Homo sapiens: one gene and its partners. The protein of the gene in region 1 interacts with the protein of each later gene in a biochemical or structural test. Each region holds a gene or a part of one and is shown in the gene's direction. Other genes may lie near its edges. The genes, in order: POLI, POFUT3 and FBXO8.

What was found.
Region 2: the proteins of POLI (region 1) and POFUT3 form a complex in vitro, tested with the Homo sapiens proteins (one large-scale study listed by BioGRID).
Region 3: the proteins of POLI (region 1) and FBXO8 form a complex in vitro, tested with the Homo sapiens proteins (one large-scale study listed by BioGRID).

Annotation. Positions count from the first base shown.
Region 1 is NC_000018.10:54,275,930-54,279,585, forward strand, and holds part of POLI (DNA polymerase iota isoform a (long)), read left to right. Parts: intron 1-1,773; coding exon 1,774-1,926; intron 1,927-3,656. UniProt on the Homo sapiens protein: Error-prone DNA polymerase specifically involved in DNA repair. Plays an important role in translesion synthesis, where the normal high-fidelity DNA polymerases cannot proceed and DNA synthesis stalls. Favors Hoogsteen base-pairing in the active site.
Region 2 is NC_000008.11:33,389,624-33,393,279, reverse strand, and holds part of POFUT3 (GDP-fucose protein O-fucosyltransferase 3), read left to right. Parts: intron 1-3,481; coding exon 3,482-3,656. UniProt on the Homo sapiens protein: Protein O-fucosyltransferase that specifically catalyzes O-fucosylation of serine or threonine residues in EMI domains of target proteins, such as MMRN1, MMRN2 and EMID1. Attaches fucose through an O-glycosidic linkage.
Region 3 is NC_000004.12:174,273,623-174,277,278, reverse strand, and holds part of FBXO8 (F-box only protein 8), read left to right. Parts: intron 1-3,656. UniProt on the Homo sapiens protein: May promote guanine-nucleotide exchange on an ARF. Promotes the activation of ARF through replacement of GDP with GTP.

The DNA of each region.
Region 1 (3,656 bases):
ATTATTTATTTCATATTTTGATGCTACTGCATATATACCTTTCTTCAAGGTATTTTTTTTTTCTGTAATTACAGACTCCTCTTTTGGGCCCTATATAATTATATGTTTAATAAATGTATCTTGCTTATGAAGTTGATACCAAGAAAGAGGTTAACTTCAGGAATGGAGGCTGGGCATGGTGGCTTATGCCTGTAATCCCAACACTTTGGGAGGCTGTGGTGGGGTATCATTTGAGGTCAGTCTGGGCAATATAACATAGCAAGACCCTGTCTCTACAAAAGTTAAAAAAAAAAAAAGTTAGCTGGTAGCATGTGCCTGCAGTCCCAGAGGCCGAGGTAGGAGGATTGCTTGGGCCCAGGAGGTCAAGGCTGTACTGAGCTGTGGTGTGCTACTCCACTCCAGCCTGGGCAACAGTGAGACCCTGTCTCATTAAAACTACAGCAACAACAAAAACCTTCAGGGACGGGATAATTAGGGATTTGTCCTGTGACCTAAAATCAGTCAATATTTAGTGATCCACCAGCTTCGTGCATGATTCTGTATTTAACTTGCTTTTCTATTTAGTGCTTAAAGCCTTATCCTTTATTTTTCTTATGTAGTATTCTTTTGATAAACTCTTGTTTTCTACATGTTACTTTGCATATCAGGTATATACTTTTGAAAATAAATTGCCGAAATTGATGAAGGAAATGCAAAACAATCATTTTCTTTGATTAGACATATTGTCAGTCTGTCCTGAAAGGAGGTAATAGTTTTCTCTAGGTAATAGTTTTCTCAGGAGTGATTTTTGGTGTTTGCCATGTCACATTGTTACCTTTATTGGTTTCCCCTCACATTGTCAATGTTGACATCAACAAAACAAAAAAGCACCTTTGGTGTTTGTGAAAAAACATGATCTATGTGGAATGAGATAGTCCTTTTATTTCTGAGCTTCAGATTATATGACCTTAAGAATCTATGCATTTTTGTATACTAAGAGACTTGCATTTGTTTTCTCTTATCCAGCTGGTGTCAGTAGAAAGTGATTCAGAGGGAAGTGAAAAACTTTCTCAATGATTTTAAAGTTATTAGTCTCAATGTTAATATATGAAAATTGATAGTTTTTTTGAATTTATTTTGAATTTTGGTTCAGCTTAATCTAGTAAACATTTGACTTGAGGACTAGATATTGTGCTAGACGCTGGGCATTTGAATACCTGTAAGTTGTGGTTCATCTCTGCCTCTCTGTCCTAAGGAATATTCTTGGGAATGGCTAATAAAAATACCACGTTATAGTATATTTTGAAAGTTGACTGACTTTCTGTTTTATTCAGTAATAATTGGACATTTTAAATATTATTTTGTTTTGCCTCTTTTAAACTCTTGGAGAAAATATAGCTAAAATATACTATTACTTGTTTTTAACTTTCCTGAGCAGCCTATAGTTTATTCTTTGACACATTTCTTCAAGGTCACCAATTTACTATAAGCATTGATATTTAATGTACTACAGATATAAAAATTATAGGTGTAGAAGATTGAGCTAGATATATTGCCATGAATAACTGCCCTAGGAATGTCATTTTTAGACTTTTTTGAAAATATTGCCTTTATACAAGATGTGGTACAGAAAAAACGTCAATTAACTGAGGGCTTTATTAAAGATATTATGGAACTATGAATGTATATAAAACCTTTAACAATAAATTTGATAAATTTTTAAGCACTAGATAGTTAAATTTATCCTAGTTATAACTTCATTTACATTTGTGCTCCAATATTATTTCAATTTAGAATTACTGGAAGAATTTAGTCCAGTTGTTGAGAGACTTGGATTTGATGAAAATTTTGTGGATCTAACAGAAATGGTTGAGAAGAGACTACAGCAGCTGCAAAGTGATGAACTTTCTGCGGTGACTGTGTCGGGTCATGTATACAATAATCAGTGTGAGTGGGTTCTTATTCATTCTACCTACTAACCAAAAGTACATACATTTCTTAATGTTCAGTGAGTTCGCTGTGTGATTCTGAAAGATTCATGACTTTTGTTGGAGGTATAGTTATATTTAGTCAGTAATCTGTCTAGGACAGCTAAAATTAGGTGCTGCTATTCCATAATAAGTGTTAAGATTTTGATGACATGTAGCTCAATGCTCTGTGCACTTTTCATTTGCACAGAGCATTGTTCCTGTTCATCTGCACAGAGCATTCATCTGTGCAGAGTTTTCGTCTGACACAGTGCATTGGTTCCCATTTTAGAAAGCCATACCCAGCTGGGCACAGTGGAGCGCCCCTGTAGTCCCAGCTGTTTGGGAGACTGAGCTGAGAAGATTGCTTGAACCCAGGAGTTTGAGTCCAGCCTAGGCAACAGAGCAAGATCCCATCTCTTAAGGAAACAAAAAGCCATACCTCTGTAGGTCATTCTTAAGTTGTAAGAGTTGGCTTCTTAATATGCTTTTTGGAATAATTTTTTATTATTCTAAAACAATCTCTAAGCAGAGTTTTCAGGTAGGCTAGATTTGCCTTTGATGTGTCTTTTACATGTTCCCTTCGATTCCCCTTTGATGTGTGTTTTACATGTTCACTTCGATTCCCCTGAGACCCTCATGTTGCTCTCTGAATTCCCAAGTTAGCACTTTTGGAATGTTGTCCAGGGCTATCTGCCATGTGCTAGAATCTTCTCCAAGCTCCTATTTAATCTGTTCAAATAATCTTTGTCAAAGTTAGCAAGAAAGCAGAATGGTTTGTCTCCTTCATATATTGAGATATGAATGACTGATGGTGTTTCCAGTGATATTTACATTTGAAAATAAGCTGCAGTAAGCACCAGTGAATATCTGATTAGGCTTTCAGACATCTTATGACTCTGCTGGTGACTCCCCTATCATACCACATACAAGACAAGGTACTCTGCTGTTGTGTAAGACTTGTCTGACCCTTTTGCTCTTAAGCCTCCCCATGCATTTCCTCTTATCCTCTTTTTTGAGAACTAGACATCGGTCTACAGAATAGTTCTCCACAGAAGAAAAGCAGTAGAACCACAGTTTCTAGAATACATGGAGCTTTTCCTGTATCTTTTGTACTTGTGCTCATTTGTAACTTAAAAGGGCTAACTAGCAAGAATATTTCAAATATATTTCTGTATAATTTTTAAGGCAAACTTGGATTTTATTGGTTAGAGTACATTATAGAGAGCTAGGTTTTATATCCCAAAAAGGGAAATGTGGAATTATTGATTAATTCTTCCTCTTTCATACAGATTTTATTAAAATTTTTTGTAAACCTACAGAAAAGTTGACAGAATAGTACAAAAAATACCCATTATGTCTTTTCTTTTTTTTTTTTTTTTTTTGAGACAGAGTCTCACTCTGTCGCCCAGGCCGGAGTGCAGTGATGTGATCTCGGCTCACTGCAACCTCCACCTCCTGGGTTCAAGCAATTCTCCTGCTTCAGCCTCCCGACTAGCTGGGACTACAGGCATGTGCCACTACACCCGGCTAATTTTTTTATTTTTAGTAGAGACGGGGTTTCACCATGTTGGCCAGGCTGGTCTTGAACTCCTAATCTCAGATGATCCGCTTGCCTTGGCCTCCCAAAGTGCTGGGATTATAGGCATGAGCCACTACTCCTGGCCCATTATGTCCTTTCTTGTAGATAAACCAGTTGTTATCGTTTTG
Region 2 (3,656 bases), on another chromosome or scaffold:
AGCAGTGAACATGACTAGAAAACTAGTGAGCCAATTGCACATACGTTAGTCACATTTTTATGGATATACCATAGGTTAATTGATTTTCATTCCTCTATAGACTCCAGTTCCAACTCTTGTTACAGTAGGCATTGCGATGGAGTTGGGGAGAGCTAAATAACTCAGTTTTTTTCTGAGCCACATCCAATACCTTTTAGAAATTGTTCAATATTGACACTTATGTTCTAGGCCATGATATCCCCAGTGAAGTAGTTTAGGTTGGTCATGGTTCTTTTTTTGTTTTGTTTTGTTTTGTTTTTGAGACAGAGTCTCACTCTGTCGCCCAGGAGGGAATGCAGTGGTGCAATCTTGGGTCACTGAAACCTCTGCCTCCCAGGTTCAAGCGATTCTCCTTCTCAGCATTGAGTAGCTGGGATTATAGGCATGCACCACCATGCCCAGCTAATTTTTGAATTTTTAGTAGAAACGGGGTTTCACCATGTTGGCCAGGCTGGTCTTGAACTCCTGACCTCAGGTGATCCACCCACCTCAGCCCCACAACGTGCTGGGATTACAGGTGTGAGCCACCATGCCTGGCCAGGTTGGTCATGGTTCTAATTTCAGTATTCTTCAGCACTTACCGTCTGAAGCTCTAGGCTTAGGAGAGATGCTTGCAGGGCAAAATGACGTGTTTTTATTTATTTTATTTATTTTTACTTTTTGAGACAGAGTCTCGCTCTGTCACCCAGGCTGAAGTATCGTGATGTGATCTTGGCTCACTGCAACCTCTGCGTCCCCAGTTCATGCAATTCTTCTGCCTCAGCCTCCCGAGTAGCTGGGATTACTACTACCATGTGCCACCATGCCTGGCTAATTTTTGTATTTTTAGTAGAGATGGGGTTTCACCATGTTGGCCAGGCTGGTCTCGAACTCCTGACCTCAAGTAATCTGCCTGCCTCGGCCTCCCAAAGTGCTGGGATTATAGGTGTGAGCCATTGTGCCATGCCAAAATGACCTATTTTCAATCTTCTCCAGAGAAGTTTAGTTTGAAAGCATCTGACAATCTTACAGAAAACCTATATTAGCGTGATTGCACACATGCGCACGCATGTGTGGTTGTGTTTTGTGTGGATGTATCTCAGGGAAGTTACCAGGAAATGCTTTTATAGATAGCAAACATGGGAAATATTTCTGGAAGGCTAGGTCCCTTTAACTTTCCTCTCTATTAATAAGCATCTCCCACTATTAAAGGCAGCTGCACCCCTGCAGACTAAACATAATTCAGATGAATGCAGGAGAGCATTCATCTGAATGCACCTGAGGCAGGCTTTGTGTCTTTCTGCTTCCCAGCTCTGCATCTGGTATCTTTGCTGAGGTGCACCCATGCTGAGCTAGGTTAAGAATCTTCCATGTGCCACCTAGCAGGTAGCAGCAGACAGTGACTGGTGTTTGGGTCACTCACTCAAATCCCCTGTGCCTGATCCCCCCAGTTAATTCTGGACCCACTTTTGTTTTAATCATATCCTCTTTAATCTCTCATCTCACACCTTGAATCCCTGCTTCTGATTCCTGTGGACTGGACTCTAGTACTTTCTCTCCCAGGCAAATGGCCTTGATTCTCTGTATGCCTTAGGTGGCAACTTTGTGTTCTAACTCAATTATATAGGTTCTGGTTCCTATCATTGGCCTCTCAGCCAGCTTAGACCCTTTTTGAGCAGCAGCTGTTGTACTTCAATGCAGTCATTTGCCTTTCTTCTCACATTCTCTTTCATATCCTCATGTTTCTCTATCTTAATGATTATTAACCTTTGCCAGCCATCCAACTTTATATGCCATTAGATTTCAGGTATATGGGTGAGTGTTCTTTTTTAAGCCTAAGGTCAAATATAGCAAATGCCAATAAACAAGGACAAGCCCATTTTTACGTTAGTACGTCATTGCCAAAGATTGAGAATAAAAGCCTGCTATCAAAACAGAGGCACTTTCTTCAGCAATTTCTCTGTGCTTAGTATATGTCCTGTGACATAACCTTATCTGATCTTTGTTTAAAAGCCTTTCTTGATTAATTGATTTCTCATTGATGTAGTGTTGGCACTGAAGAGTTTATCTTTATTTGTGGGAGTGTACACTGGCATTAAATAATTAATTTTTATGAGCTCTGCCAGAAAATGTTGATAAAGTTTTATTTTGGCATAAATATATATTCGGTATTTTCTTTTCCAGTGGGTATTGGAAGATGAATTTTTTCCCGTTTCCTTATATTTATTTTAAAAAAACTCAAGGGTCTACAAAATTATCCATGTCAAGAATACTTCAGAAATTGTATATTACCTATTGTGTTATTGTCTTAGTTCTTCTTTCTCAGTTATTGAAATAAGTTCTCCCTGATTGGATCTCCACCCATGCAGCCAGGAAACAATCGCTTACCACATCCATCACTTCTGTCTGCACATCATCATGTTTCAGAGGTTTTTCAATTAATCCCGTGGATGCTAGGGTCACTCATAATTGTAATCCTGTTAGGCCTTCTTTATTTCTCCATGAGCTTGTTAATTCCTGTCCATCCTGCAGTGGTCTGTAACATAGTGCTATTATCAGCTCTTTCGTCTTTAAAAGCCTCTTGTCTACCATTTTGACTAAGATTGATTAACTGCACTTTGCTGAAATCAATCATTTTGGATTAAAAAAATCTATCTTCTACATTTCTTCTGGCTACTTTTGCATGGTTTCACTTTTTTTTTTTTTTTTTTTTGCAGTTAATCAACCTGCTGACCTGGTTGCTTTCCTTTTTTGGCTTCCTTTCTCTTGCTCTTTTCTTTTTAAAGAACTGTCTTTATCTCTTTATTTCTCCTATTTACTTGTAGGTAACACTTTTCAGGAAGAAAAGCCCATTGCAAGAGGCAGTGGAATAAATTCTCCTTTAGAACCTGGCCAGACACGACTCCTGTTTCCTTTTTCGTAAAATGAGAAATGATAGTCCCCCTCTTTGGTGATCCTCTCCCTCAGTAGTTTCTGGGGTGAAAGCTTTGTGACTGACTGCCAGGCACTTTGCAGTGACACTGTAACATGCTTCATGTGTGTGTGTGTGTGTGTGTATGACACACACACACACATATATTTTGAGACAGAGTCTTGCTCTGTCACCCAGGCTGGAGTGCAGTGGCTCAATCTTCACCTCCCGGGTTCAAGTGATTCTCCTGCCTCAGCTTCCCAGGTAGCTGGGATTACAGGCAATGTGCCACCATGCCCAGCTAATTTTTGTATTTTTAGCAGAGACAGGGTTTCACCATGTTGGCCAGGCTGGTCTCGAACTCCTGACCTCAAGTGATCCACCTGCCTTGGCCTCCCAAAGTGCTGGGATTACAGGCGTGAGCCACCGTGCCCGGCCACATGCTTCTTATTCATAGCCTCAGACTCCTCTGTATTCTAATCTTACCAGGTAGACCCAAACTTAGCAACATCTTTTGGAAATACTAATTAATATCTCATTTTCTTCTCCTAGGTACTGACTTTAACATAGATAGCTTACCTCTGCCTCGGAAAGCCCATCATGACTGGGCTGTTTTTCATGAAGAGTCCCCGAAAAACAATTATAAGCTCTTTCATAAACCAGTGATCACCTTGTTCAACTACACTGCCACGTTCAGCAGGCATTCCCACTTGCCACTAACTACCCA
Region 3 (3,656 bases), on another chromosome or scaffold:
TCTTTTTAAGAAATAGTCTACTATTTTGAATAGGAAACAAAACATAGTAGTCAAAAATACCATCTCTTAGAAATGTAACGATCTTCTAGAAGTTAAAAAGTATAGAAAACTATTATTGTTCTTATAAATTTTAATAAATGTGTAATTATTTGTAGTTAATCCATAGTTTGTACTGCTTTTAAGTGGAAGCGCTTTTATGCTGTTGTAACAGACTTGGTTAGACTAAAACTGCTACTTTAAAAAAAATACATCCAAAATTATGTCAGAACAATATAGCTGTTTCAGAAACTACATACTGCTTTACCAATTAAAAGATGCTTTTATATACATTCTCTTAGTTAAGGCTCATAGCCACCCTGTAAAATAGATAGGAATGATTTCCCCCATTTTATAGGAAACAAAAGATCAGAACCTTGTTTGAAATACCTAAGGTCACACAGCAAGTTACAGCGTAATTGGAGCTCCACCTTTAAATTCATCCTCCACAGTAGTAGTGTCAAAAAACTTCTACATTACTGTAAAACAGAGATTATAGTATATAGCCCACTTTAGAGATTTCAGTTTTATTTATTTATGCTGAAATTAGCATAATAAAACTGAAAGTGGACAAATTAATTTTTAAAAACCAAAGATCTACACGCCACTGCACTCCAGTCTGTTGACAGAGCGAGACTCCCTCTCAAAAAAACAAAACAAAACAAAATCTAAATATATTTAAATTTTTTTTAAAAATTGGCTCTGTCAGGCAGTCACAGTGGCTCATGCCTGTAATCCTAGCACTCTGGGAGGCCGAGGCAGGCGGATCACATAGTCAGGAGTTCAAGACCAGCCTGGCCAATATAGTGAAACTCCGTCTCTACTAAAAATACAAAAATTAGCCAGGCATGGCGGTGCGCGCCTGTAGTCCCAGCTACTCGGGAGACTGAGGCAGGAGAATCGCTTGAACCCAGGAGGCAGAGGTTGCAGTGAGCCGAGATTGTTCCACTGCACTCCAGCCTGGGCAACAGAGCAAGACTCCAACTCAGAAAAAACAAGTTGGCTCTGTCAAATAAATATTTGGTCAATATGTAATAAAAGTATTACTGTTAATATTGCTATTGTTATTTTAATGGAAACAAGGGCATATAAGAATATAGGAGATTCTAAATAAAATTTACCAATTTTAATGTATTTTAATAAGTAGAAGCATTTTTCTACAGATATTAGAAATATAATATTTGTAGCAATCCAAATTAATTCATATAGCTTATTACTTTGTTTTTAAATAAGTAATTATACCAATTTTCTAATTAATGTATTTTATATGTACATTGTCTTTTTTATTAGACTAAGAGTTACACAAATATCGATCCTTTTTGCATTTGTACCTTACTCTGTTGTTTATATATCCTATGTAAGTGGTCAAAACATCATTTAGGATTTGTGTCTATAAGGATTTGTATTCCTTAATTCCATCTTCTTTTGATCCATATGTATTCAAATTTACCTGAAGTGAGAGATGATTCATAGGTTGTAGATTTTTCACAATTAGTTGGATTCCCAAAATCTAAAATAGTTACTATTTGTGAAATGATGGTAGACTTCCCATGTCTTTGCTCACCCTCTTTAAAGCATTCATTAGAGTTTCTAATTCCTTTTTATAAAACATCTTTATTAAGGTATCATTTACATACAATAAAATTCATTCACTTTAAATGTGCAGTTGCCTATCCTTTTTTAAACTTTTTTTGTTTTTTTCCATCCTTCTATGATTTTTTAAGATAATTGTAGATGTACATGCAGTCTCAAGAAATATAGAGTCATCCCTTGTACACTTTACCTAGTTTCTCTGATTGGTAATAGTTTTGTAACTATAATATACTATCAAAACCAGGATTTTGACATTGATACAATCCCCCATCTTACTCATATTCCCCTAGTTTTATTTTTACTCAGTGTACATATGTGTGTGTATGAAGTTCTGTGCAAGTTCACATATCCAGCACCATAGTCAAGATAGTAAATAGTTGTAACACCACAGGGATCTCTCACACTGTGCTTTTATAACCGTACGCACCTCTCTCCTGGCTAATGATGTTGACCATCTTACCATGTGCTTATTTGCCATTTGTATATCCTCTTTCATGAAACGTGTGTTTATATCTTTTGCCCATTTTTATATTGGATTGTTTGGTTTTTGTTTACTATTGTTTTGAGAGTTGTTTATATATTCTAGATACTCGTCCGTCAGATATGTGGTTTACAAATATTTTCTCTCAATCTGTAGGCTTTCCTTTCATCTTCCAAATATAGACTTTCAAAGAGCAAAAATTTTTTATTTTGATGAATTCGATCAATTTTTACTTTCATGATCATCCTTTTGATATAAGTCTGGGAATTCTTGGCCTAGCCTTAGACCCCAAAGATTTCCTTCTATGTATTTTTCTAAAATTTTTATAGTTTTATGTTTTACGTTTAAGTCTATGGTCCATTTTGAGTTAATTTTTGTAAAAGGTGTAAGGTTTAGGTCAAGGTTCATGTAATTCATTTTTTTTAAAATCAGTGCTTACTAATCGTTTATTCATTCAACAAATATTTTCTGAGCACTTTATATGCCAAGGCACTGTGTTTGATACTGGGTTTATTCATGTAACCTATTGTGTGGAGTCAGTTCCTTATTTTAGTACTTACAGTCATCATTTTGCATTTTACCATGTTAACTGAAACTAGTGCGTGTTGGAACTATGGCCTTGCTATGTAAATGGCATCTCTCCAAATTTCACAGATCCCAAATTAATGAAATTCAGGACCAGGATTATGACTACTCAGGTAATTAATCCACAGTTATCAGGTGTATTTGAAATGAAGGAACCAAAATAATAGTTATCATTTAAAGAGGGCGAGAGGGATGAGTACGAAACTACCTTTTATTGTAAACTACCTACTATGGGTTAAGTTCCATAAATGTTATCCCTACTAAGTCCCATGGAATAAGAATTATTATCCGTTATTTTACTAATGAGAAGAATGAGGATCAGAAATCACAGGCTAATCAGATTCCGTGTTGGGGTTTGATGCTGATCTTTCTTCACATCAAAGCCTGTGTGCTTTCCACAAGAACAGCAGTAGCCTGAAAGAGCAGCTGCAGCTGGGACCAACGATGGAGGTAATAAACAGTGACGGGGTAAAAAGAGATGAGAACCAGTGGTGAAGAAACAGATGGTAAATTGCTTTTGTCATCCATGGGCTCCAGCGGTTCTGGGAATATGGTTTGTGGGTTAAGAATAAAAGCTTTGGACTCAGATAGAACTGAGTTTGAATCCTAAATCTTCCATTTTTCCAGCTTTGACTTCTCAGGCAAATTTGCTTAACCTCTCTGGACCACTATTTCTTTAGTAATGGTCTTCAGTCTGTATTACACTGAGCCCTAAGGTAATAATAATAATAATAATTCTTAAACTGAGTACATAAACTCAAACACACATCTTTTTCAAATTTACATGCCTGGATTCCACAACTAGGAGATTTGTAGTTACAAAAAAATTGTTAGAGGAATAAAAATAACCCTTGAATACTTTTTAGCCAGGTTTACAAATTTTTAATATTTTGCCACATCACCTTATTGTTCCATCTGTATAGACATAGACGTTACTGTTTTGCTGAACCATTTTGGAGTA